Regions from separate parts of the Homo sapiens genome. Here region 1 is reported to be linked to region 2. The links are microRNA targets in miRTarBase. Many come from high-throughput screens and were not tested one by one. Region 2 holds a microRNA gene; the other region holds the end of a gene's coding sequence.
The links. Region 2 holds the annotated microRNA hsa-miR-1291 (UGGCCCUGACUGAAGACCAGCAGU, at 2,986-3,009, shown strand). A microRNA usually pairs through its seed, bases 2 to 8, with sites in the 3' UTR of a target mRNA and lowers its output. Matches are read on the target gene's strand: a 7mer-m8 pairs with bases 2 to 8, a 7mer-A1 pairs with bases 2 to 7 and ends in A, and an 8mer does both.

Region 1: the mRNA of S100A16 is a reported target of hsa-miR-1291. Seed matches in the 3' UTR shown: 7mer-m8 at 523-529.

What each region holds. Positions count from the first base shown.
Region 1 is chr1:153,602,590-153,607,967 of GRCh38, reverse strand. S100A16 (S100 calcium binding protein A16) reads left to right here. Exons shown (of 3, transcript NM_080388.3): 3 at 276-1,082. The coding sequence ends at 434. Among named protein-coding and RNA genes, the nearest start is that of S100A16, 7.9 kb to the left of the region's middle. RefSeq lists an enhancer at 1,983-2,938.
Region 2 is chr12:48,652,125-48,657,502 of GRCh38, reverse strand. It overlaps MIR1291 (microRNA 1291), which reads left to right and starts at 2,973; the gene lies at 2,973-3,059. It overlaps KANSL2 (KAT8 regulatory NSL complex subunit 2), which reads left to right. Exons shown (of 10, transcript NM_017822.4): 9 at 2,443-2,562; 10 at 3,328-4,292. The coding sequence ends at 3,459. SNORA2C (small nucleolar RNA, H/ACA box 2C) reads left to right here and starts at 2,985; the gene lies at 2,985-3,121. SNORA2A (small nucleolar RNA, H/ACA box 2A) reads left to right here and starts at 721; the gene lies at 721-855.

The DNA of each region.
Region 1 (5,378 bases), not on the chromosome of region 2:
CTCTCCCCTTCCCTCCCCTGCAAGCCTCTGGCCTCTGAGGGTGTCTTTCCCTGCTGAGGCCTCTATCCTTCCAGTGTCCCCGCTAACTCCAGGGTCTTCTACACCCCCAGGCCTCTGTCTTCTCAGGATGCTTAGGCCTAGCCAGTGAGGGCTATATTTGCATTTCCCAAGGGAAGCAGCTGTGCAGGCCAGATCCTGGGTCTCTGCCTAGGGTCCTGCCTGGAGTCTCTCTGGGGCTTCCACCATCAGCATTGCTGACCCTGCTTCCTCCCCAGGACACAGGGAACCGGAAGGCTGCGGATAAGCTCATCCAGAACCTGGATGCCAATCATGATGGGCGCATCAGCTTCGATGAGTACTGGACCTTGATAGGCGGCATCACCGGCCCCATCGCCAAACTCATCCATGAGCAGGAGCAGCAGAGCAGCAGCTAGAGACCCCTTTGGCCACACCTTCCAGGCACTGGCCTGATGCCCCGCCCTGGTGCTCTCCCCAGGCTCCCTCCTCAGCCTCCTGCCCACCCAGGGCCCTTTACTCTCTTCTCCCTCCAGACCTTCCTCTGACCCTTGCTGAACTGGGGTCCCTTTGTGAGTGTCTCAGTCTAGAGGTACCTCCCTCCCTGGGGGGTCTCAGCTCCTGGAGTCGCAGGCCCTTGGGGCCCCTCTGTGAGATCTCAATGCTGTCTGGGGACCCTAAGAGTTTTCTCACCTGTTCAGTCTCATCTAACCTTCCAATGTCTGATGTTCCTGCCAAATTCCTGCCTGATTCTGGGTCCGTCCTGACCTCCAAAGGTCAGCTTGGTGCTTGAGGTCTCCCTGCTCTTGGTGGCAGTGGTAGCAGCAACAGCAGCAGCAGCAGCAGCAGCAGCAGCAGAGACCTCTCCACTTTCCCTTAGCCCCTCTGCTGGGTAGAGAGGCACTTTCAGGGACTTCCCTCCAGCTGCCTCTTCATCTGGGAATGAGCTAAGCAAGGCTGAGCCTCCTCCTGTTGCTTGAAATAATGATGATATAAAGGCTGGATTTGGAGTTTGTATCCCCTGGTCCCTCTGGGATGCTCATTAAAACCTTCCCACTCCTTGGAAACGTTTTATGCTTTGGTGGTCTTAGCCCTTGGGCCCTGTGATAAGAGAGAATCTCACAGAAGAACCTCAAAGGCAGAGCAAGAAAGGAGCCAGAACTCCTAAATTCCAACAGGCACTGTCAGCTGTGGGCCAGCAGCTCCCTCCATCCTCCTCCATAAAGGGCCAAAGGCCTTAGGTCACCATCTCTGGGCCCTTTTAGCCCAGACTCAGACTCAAATTCAACTTCCAGGCACACTGTAAGTCCCGTTTAGTCCTCACTGCAATTCCACGAGAGAGGGACCATGACCCTTAGTCTTTTTTTTTTTTTTTTTTTGGAGCGGAGAGTTTAATAGGCAAGAAGGGGCAAGACGGAAGGGAGAAGGAAGAAGCTCCCCTGTACAGAGACAGAGGGACGGAGGCCCCAAAGCTGAGAGAGGGAACCCCACCTGCCACAGATACCATCTAGGTATATATACAGAGGCTGGAGGAGGAGGAGTCTGATTTGTATAGGGCTCAGGGGATTGGTTTGACTATGCGTGTCATTCACGTAGCCCTCGGAAAAAGCTGGCCCTCACACCCTAGCCTTTTTTTTTTTTTTTTTTTTTTTTGAGATGGAGTTTCACTCTTGTTGCCCAGGCTGGAGTGCAATGGCGTGCAATCTCGGCTCACCGCAAGCTCCGCCTCCCGGGTACAAGCAATTCTCCTGCCTCAGCCTCCCGAGTAGTTGAGAATACAGGTATGTGCCACAATACCCCGCTATTTTTGTTGTATTTTTAGTAGAGACGGGATTTCTCCATGTTGGTCAGGCTGGTCTGGAACTCCTGACCTCAGGTGATCCGCCCGCCTCGGCCTCCCAAAGTGTTGGGATTACAGGCGTGAGCCACCGCACCTTGCCCCACCCTAGCCTTTTAATATGCAAATGCAGGTCTACACACCTGGGGATATGTGAGGGCAGCCACATTGCCAGGAACATGTGGGGAAAGGGCAAGAAGGCCGGGGGAATCACCATGTTTGGGTGGACCCAGTTTCTAAGGGCTTGCATTTGCATATCAAAGGTTGCCAACCTGGCTCTAAGAGCCGGGGCTTTACAAGAAACTTTTCTGGAGATGCTTCAAAAAAATGAAAACTCCAGCCTGACCAACATGTAGAAACCCCGTCTCTACTAAAAATACAAAATTAGCCGGGCGTGGTGGCGCATGCCTGTAATCCCAGCTACTCGGGAGGCTGAGGCCAGAGAATCGCTTGAACCCAGGAGGCGGAGGTTGTGGTGAGCCAAGATCGCACCATTGCACTCCAGCCTGGGCGACAAGAGCAAAACTCCGTCTCAAAAAAAAAGAAAAAGAAACAAAACAAAAAACTTCCCAAGGACCCAAGGACCCATTTTCCTCTCTATCTGCCTAAAATAATTTCTTAATAACTCCTACAACATTCCCCCCTGTGGAGATGCCACACTAACTGCTGTTAGGGAGTTTTGGGCGACGACTCCTTCTGGCTACTTCTTGTTGCAAAAGGGCGTCGAATGGGGAAGAGCAGCTAGGGCTCCTCCTGGGGTCAATCTAAGGGTCCTCAGAAGAATGATGTGTCTATGTGTGGTTCTGTTTACAGCACCATTTGGAGTTTGATTGCTTCTAGATGAGAAGAAACAATTTGAGTTATAGTATTGTGTATACAGGGTCCAAATATCAATACAAGACACATAAGCAAGAGAGGGCTTAATAAAGGGGTTAACCAATTCCATAAAGAAGACTGGAATTTATTAAAGAGGCATTGTAGCCACTCGGGGATCAATAATTTTGATTTGATTTTTAAGTACTTGTAGATTTTCTTTTAACTAGAGGCATTAATCCGAAAGCAGCATGTTTCATTGAAAACTGCATCACTAAACCCAATAAAAAGTCCTAGCAGATTCAGTGGTAGTAAAACTTTTATGCTTCCTTTTCATTAGTAGCTATTATCCCTGCTATAAGGATAATGATTAAGCAAAATATGACAGCAATGGAAACTCTCTGTTTAATATTTCAGTTAGAAGGTGCTACCATGTATAATCCTATTGCAAATAATAGAGTGAGTATAGCTATTTCCATAAGTGTGGTGTGGTAGATAATTTCCATCTAAACTTTTACCTGTCAAGATATAGAATTCCCCTTTGGGGGTCTATGAAGTTCCTTGGTTTTATTTTCCTAAACGAAGAAACCTCTGGGTTATGGGCACCCTACTCACTTTTATTACCTGGTAGAATTTGCAGAATAATTGCCCAGAACTAATATATTGATTCAGATTTTATATTACCCATCCCTTAATTTTTCTTCCAAGCTGCAGGAGATCACTGCTTGATTCACAGGAATAAGCAGGGTTAGTCTAAAATGTAGGCGAAAAGCTTGAAAACAAAAACAAAAAACAAAAAAATGTATGATAAGCTTTGGAGCACAATTTTTCTCTCTAGTCCTCGTTCTTGGTAAAAACAAGTTATGAATAAACTGTAGTCTTATACTTGCCCTGATTATTTGCATAAAGTGCAGCAAGAATGGTTATTTGTACACAGGCCTTTTGATTGGCTTTGATGAAACTCTGTTTCACAAGGAATTTCAGATAAGACTATTAAAGCCTAAAGTTTGTATTTGAGGATACAAACCTCAAATACCTGTTAGTTGGGTGATCCTCTCCTCTTGAGGTCCCAAGATAAACTCGGAGCTCCCAGACGTGTTAAAAAATGACATTCTTTACTGACTACAGATTAGGAACCCTGTCCAGAGACTGTGTAGACAAGGTATGAGGCCAGTTCTCCCAAAGCGGCTTTTATTGGCTCTGCTTGTCAAGCTTGATTCAGATAGTTTCCAAATTCTAGAGGAACCAGGCAGAGAAATAAACATGCTCCAAATTTTGTTCATAGGAGTACACCTTACTCAATTATTAAAGGCCACAAATAGCTTAAAATAAGTTTCCTTGACTCAGTCTGATGAACGAATTTCCTTTCCTGGCCAACGCACTAAAATGATACGGCTCTGATGAGTGGAGGAACACCAGGGTTCTTGGTGCTCATGCCAGTTTAGATAAAACGACATGGACACACGTGGAGTGGTTTTAAGGAGCGGAGAGTTTAATAGGCAAGAGGGACAAGAAGGAAGGGAGAAGGAAGAAGCTCCCCTATACAGAGACAGAGGGAGGGGGGCTCCAAAGCCAAGAGAGGGAACCCCCATGACCCTTAGTCTTGAGCCATGAGTGGCACTGAGGCTCTGAATTCTCATTAGTAGACTATCCCGATACAGACAGAAGTTGTGGGATGGAGAAGTAGAGGTGCAAGGAAGAAGGAGTGTGGGAGGCCAGGTGGAATGGAAGCCATGACTTGCAGCTGCTGGAGGGGACATTGCCAGTTCCTTGGTTTCTCCCCTGCTCTTGCACTGAGGGAGATCCCAGTAGGAAACCCACCCTGCAGAACTGGGCATCAGCAGTTTTTAAATGGGAACAGCTTAAGACTTTCCAAAAAGATGCACAGGCACAATAGTTTTATTGGCATCCACTTACAGATCCTCAGCCTTCTAAAATTGATCTGCCCTGGAACAGGGTGGCACTCAAGGTGTTGTACTGTTCCTCCTTTCCCACCCCCAGTAGCTGGGATTACAGGCTGGCGCCACCACACTCAGCTAATTTTTGTATTTTTAGTAGAGAAGGGGTTTCACTATGTTGGCCAGGCTGGTCTCAAACTCCTGGCCTCAAGAGATCCACCTGCCTCAGCCTCCCAAAGTGCTGGGATTACAGGCATGAGCTGCCGTGCCCGGCCTACTATGCTACCTTGACTGAATGATAAAGAATGAGTTAACATGTCTTGTTGGTGGCGGGGGGAGGGGGGTGGTTCTATCTATCTATCCATCCATCCATCTATGTATCTATCAATCTATCATCTATTTATCTACTTACCTATCTACCTATCTGCTATCTATCTATCATCTATCTATCTATCTATCTATCTATCTATCTATCTATCTATCGCTATCTGTCAACTGGTAAAAAAGACACAAATTTACCTCTTTTTTTAGTGTGCATTACAGTATTGTTAACCGTATATACATTGTACAAAAGATCTCCAGAACTTTTTCATCTTGCACGACTGTAACCCTATACCCTTTGAACAACAACTGTTTCTCCCTCCCCACAGTGAATACAATTTTACTTTCTGTTTCTTTTCTTTTCTTTCTTTTTTCTTTTCTTTTTTTTTTTTTTGAGACAGATCTTGCTCTGTCACCCAGGCTGGAGTGCAGTGGCACAATCTTGGCTCACTGCAATCTTGACCTCCCTTGTTCAGGTGATTCTCCTGCCTTAG
Region 2 (5,378 bases):
AATGAATGGTAGGTTGAGTGTATCCTGTGCCCTATGTTTCTGCTTAAATTGAGCAGCTTTATTTTATTATTTTTTTTTGAGACAGAGTCTTGCTCTGTTGCCCAGACTGGAGTGCAGTGGTGCAGTCTCGGCTCACTGCAACCTCTGCCTCCTGGGTTCAAGCAATTCTCCTGCCTCAGTGTCCTGAGTAGCTGGGACTACAGGTATGTGCCAAGACGCCTGGCTAATTTTTGTATTTTTAGTAGAGATGGGGTTTCACCATGTTGGCCAGGCTGGTAATTTTTTGTGGAGACTGGGTTTCACCATGTTAGCCAGGATGGTCTCAATCTCTTGACCTCATGATCCGCCCACCTTGGCCTCCCAAAGTGTTAGGATTGCAGGCGTGAGCCACTGCACCCGGCCTGAGCAGCTTTAAGTAGATTTTAAAATTATATATATTCTTTAATGTGAAGATGTTGTGATTCTCATTTTTGGTGATTAGCACACCAACAAATGGGAAAGGATTGCAAATTCTTAGATTTATTTAAAAGCGTAGAACTAAGCTTCTCGTGAAGCTAGATGAATAGAAACACGGAGCATCTATAAACTGGATTAAACATAGGGGGGTACAAACCTCCTGGATATTTTTAATTCTTAGGAAGAAGGAGAATTTAGCACCAGACTCTTGAAAAGCAGTGGCATGAAAGTTAGTTTGATATATTGTTTGAGTTTGTATTGCCTTAGGCCCTGAATCAAGACCAATGGTTTGCTGTAGCTGTTGGTTTCAAACAGGAGCTAAGAGTGATGTCTTCCTTGTGGTCTGTTGGCTATTCAGTATTCCAGTGCGAATTGCCAATTCAGTTGGAAGAAACATAGTCTAGAATGTAATGTCATTTTTTTTTTTTTTTTTTTTACAGAGCAAAACTATGTTAGGCTTAAGAACCAGGGAGTTGGCCGGGCGTGGTGGCTCATGCCTGTAATCCCAGCACTTTGGGAGGCTGAGGTGGGCCAATCACTGGTCGGGAGATCAAGGCCATCCTGGCTAACATGGTGAAACCCTGTCTCTACTAAAAATACAAAAAATTAGCTGGGCGTGGTGGCACACGCCCATAGTCCCAGCTACTGGGGAGGCTGAGGCAGGAGAATCACTTGAACCCAGGAGGCGGAGGTTGCAGTGAGCCGAGATCACGTCACTGCACTCCAGCCTGGGCGACAGAGCGAGACTCTGTCTCAAAAAAAAAAAAAACAAAACAAAAAAAACCAGGTTGTTGCTCTGTCGGGATAGGGACTTAACCAAAATAATATTTCCTAGCCATTCAGAGGAACTGTGAGTTTTCTGTTGTCCTTCCTTTCTTCCTACCTTCTCCCTTTCCCTTGTTGGAGCTTGTTTGCTTGCTTTGTGGCTGTTAGGATATTAATCAGGCAATCTTGTATTACCCAGCAATATTTAATTTTAACGTAGCATTGTTCATATTTAAATTAATCACTGGTGAACTTACATGTTCATTACAGGTAGCCTCAGAGAATATGCTTTTTTAAAAAATATTTTTTTAATTGTAGTAAAACATACATAACAAAATTTTACTCTTTTAACCTATGTATGTATGTGTGTAAGTAGGTGGGTAGGTAGAGATGGAGTCTTGCTGTGTCACCCAGGCTGGTCTTGAATTCCTGGCCTCAAGTGATCCTCCCACTTCGGCTTCCCAAGGTGTTGTTATCATAGGCATGAGCCACTGCACCTGGCCGTTTTTAAGTGTACAAGTCAGTGGTGTTATGAACATTTACCATGTTGTACAGCTATCACCATTTTCTGTTCCAGAACTTTTTCATCAACCCAAACAGAAACTTTGTACTTTTTAAACAGTAACTCTCTCCTTTCCCTTTCCCCTGTTCCCTACTATTCTCCGTTTCTACTTTGTGTTTCTGTGAATTTTCCTAGAATTTTTTTTTTTTTTGAGACAGGGTCTGGCTCTGCCACCCAGGTTAGAGTGCAGAGGTGCAGTCTCGGCTCACTGCAGCCTCTGCGTCCCAAGCTTGAGGGATCCTCCCACCTCAACCTCCAGAGTAGCTGGGACTACAGGTGTGTGCCACCGCGCCTGGCTTATTTTTGCAGTTTTTGTAGAGACGGGGTTTCACCATGTTGCCCAGGCTGGTCTTGAACTCCTGGGCTCAAGTGATATGCCTACCTTGGCCTCCCAAAGTGCTGGGATTAGAGGTGTGGTGGCCAGAATTTTGTTTTTTAATCTACTGTATTGGTCTATGTTTTACACTTGGCAGCAAAAGCTCTCAGTGCTTTTGGATCTTGTTTCATTTGTTGGACGCTCTTGTAAAATTTTTTTTTTATTAAAGGTAGGCTAGGGTTGAGGGAGACAGCAGAGTATTGCTTTAAAGTTTGCTGAAAAACATGCCAACTTTATTACTGTTTCCCTTGGTATTGCTGATGGGCTTTTCTCTTTTTTCTAGGACTTGGATGTTGTGGGTGATGGTATGCAGTGTCCTCCTTCACCTTTGCTTTTTGATCCTTCACTAACCCTTGAAGATCATTTAGTCAAAGAAATTGCTGAAGACCCAGTGGATATTTTGGCAAGTGAAGAACAGTCCCACCTGTTTCCCTCATGTAGTGACCTGGCCAGGCAGAGGGTTCCCTGCTAGATAGCATGTGCTCCTGGAGGGGAGTGGGGTGTCATCACTAGTATAAAGATGCTCCACATGTCTCTCACTTATTGAATACCATATAAGCAAAGCACTTTTAAAAATGCCCTACTCTGCTCCTGTGTACCCTTGTTGCTGTAGTTCTCCAGATGGGCTCTTAGAACACCTAATGGCCCGTGATCCTCATATCCCAGAGTAGGACATACATTTATTTAAATAAAAGCTTGAGACAAGGAATCTAGGGAAATCATACCTTCTGAGGGAGAGTTCATCACTGAAATTGTTCTCATTGTAGAAGGACCAGTAAAGTAATGTGATTTGAGTTCTGTCCGTGAGCCTTGGGTAGAATTCCAGTGGCCCTGACTGAAGACCAGCAGTTGTACTGTGGCTGTTGGTTTCAAGCAGAGGCCTAAAGGACTGTCTTCCTGTGGTCTGTTGGCTGTTCTGGGACCTCAGTAGGGAATGGCTATTTCATTTGGAAGAAACAACCTACAGCTCACCATCCCATTGGAAGAGGCTCAGGAATAGGCTCTTCCAAGGGACTAGGATAGCTAATATGGGAAGAGCATCTGTCCAGAATTAATTTCTGTTGTATTGTTCTTATTGCTAGTTTAAGTGGCCACTGATAAGTCAGATTCATACTTCAGACCACAGTGAATGAATTACTAACTGAAGTGCCTTTATTTCTTTTAACAGGGCCAGATGCAGATGGCTGGAGATGGGTGCAGATCCCAGGGATCTCGAAATTCTGAGAAAGCCTCTGCACCATTGTCTCAGAGTGGATTGGCTACTGCAAATGGGAAGCCAGAACCCACTTCTATTAGTTGATAGTTTGGGGAACCATTTTACTTTGGTGGATTTAAATTTCTCGTTCTTCAAAGAAGTATTTCTGATCATCTCTCACAAAACACAGGCAACCCAGACTACCTTGTTTTTCTTCTGGATTGAGTATTATAGTCAAACGTAAAGCCAAATTTTGAGGACGTGGACCGTGGGTTTCTTCCCACTCAGGGCAAGGAAGAGAAAGAGAGATAATCCCTATCAAAGCTTCTGGGATTATTTGGGACTATACCTAAAAGGAAAGTGACATCTTTGTAATGGGATTTCCCAAGTCATGGATAGAAATCCACTTAAGTAGCTAGGTGGGAGCTGTCTTTGTGAGTGGTGTCTTTGAGATACTGATGGCCCTAATATCGGTTATCTCTATCTGAAGACCTGCAGTTTAGCTTTTCTTCACCTCTACTTAATTGGGCAGTCTTTAACCCCTTTCCCTGGTGAACTCTGGCTTTTTATCCTCTGAGAAAACAGCCCACAGGACTGGGTCCTCCTTATCCGTCTTGCTTTTAACCTATGTAAATTTCTGTGGTTGCTATCTTATGTAAAATATAGTAAAAATTTATTGTATATAGTTTCTATTAAATGTTAAAGAAAATGTTATGAAAATATCAAACAGTCACCTGAATTGAATGCATGTTTTGTTTGAGAATATAGTTTCTTTTTCGCGGTTTTGGGGACCTGTCTCTGATGGGAAAGGGAAGTTGGGACAGATGATACTTCCATCCCAAGAAGTAAATAAATCTTCAGTAGCTCATTTTGGTTTTGCTTTGAAGGAAGAAGTAAATGAAAAGGGGCAGGACTTATTAAAGCCCATCAGTTCCAAATATCTTTCTTCTTTTTACCCTCCACTCTGTGTCTCCTACACCCACTCCCATTTCTCACGATTAATGCCAATGCCATCTCTGCCAGACGTGGTGGCTTACGCCTGTAATCCCAGCACTTTGGGAGGCTGAGGTAGGCGGATCACTTGAGCTCAGGACTTCAAGACCAGTCTGGGCAATGTGGTGAGACCCTGTGTCTATATTTTTAAATTTTAAATAATTATTTTTAAAAAAATAATGCTAATACCATCTCAGAATTCTCTAGTGGTAGGAATATACTTAAAACATAGAGAAATTGGGCCTGATGCTGGATCACTAAGATAGACATAGATAGGTATTGTCAAGATCGTTTTGACACTGAATCTTAGAGCAGGATTAAAATAGAAGTTCAGTTAGGGTTGAGGTACCTATGCTAGAAATTGTCTATTTCTATACTGCATTATGACAAGGAGGGCAAAAGATTACTTTCTATAAGAACTGAAATGGGCACAGAATGGCTTACAGTTATACCATCATCTTAACTTTAAGCATTTACATTCAGAGAATGGTTGAAAGTAACTCATAAAAGGCCCATCAGATGAACCACTGGGGAGATTGCCTTTACTGGGTCTTCCAGTGATACTCTTTTTAAGTTTGTAGTTCCCACTGCTTTTTTGATTCTCTAGTCTAGTACTTTTTTTTTTTTTTTTTTTTGAGACGGAGTCTGGCTCTGTCACCTAGGCTGGAGTGCCGTGGCTCAATCTCGGCTCACTGCAACCTGCATCTCCTAGATTCAAATGATTCTCCTGCCTCAGCCTCCCGAGTAGCTGGGATTACAGGCATGTGCCACCATGCCTGGTTATATTTTGTATTTTTAGTAGAGATGGAGTTTTGCCATGTTGGCCAGGCTGGTCTCGAACTCCTGACCTCAGGTGATCTGCCTGCCTCAGCCTCCCAAAATGCTGGGATTATAGGTGTGAGCCACCATGCCTAGCCTAGTCTAGTGCATTTTATACTTTATCCACAAAGACAAACATTACTTTTTATTTATGTGTGTGTTTATATTTGAGATGTGATCTGACTATGTCACCCAGGCTGGAGAGCAGTGTC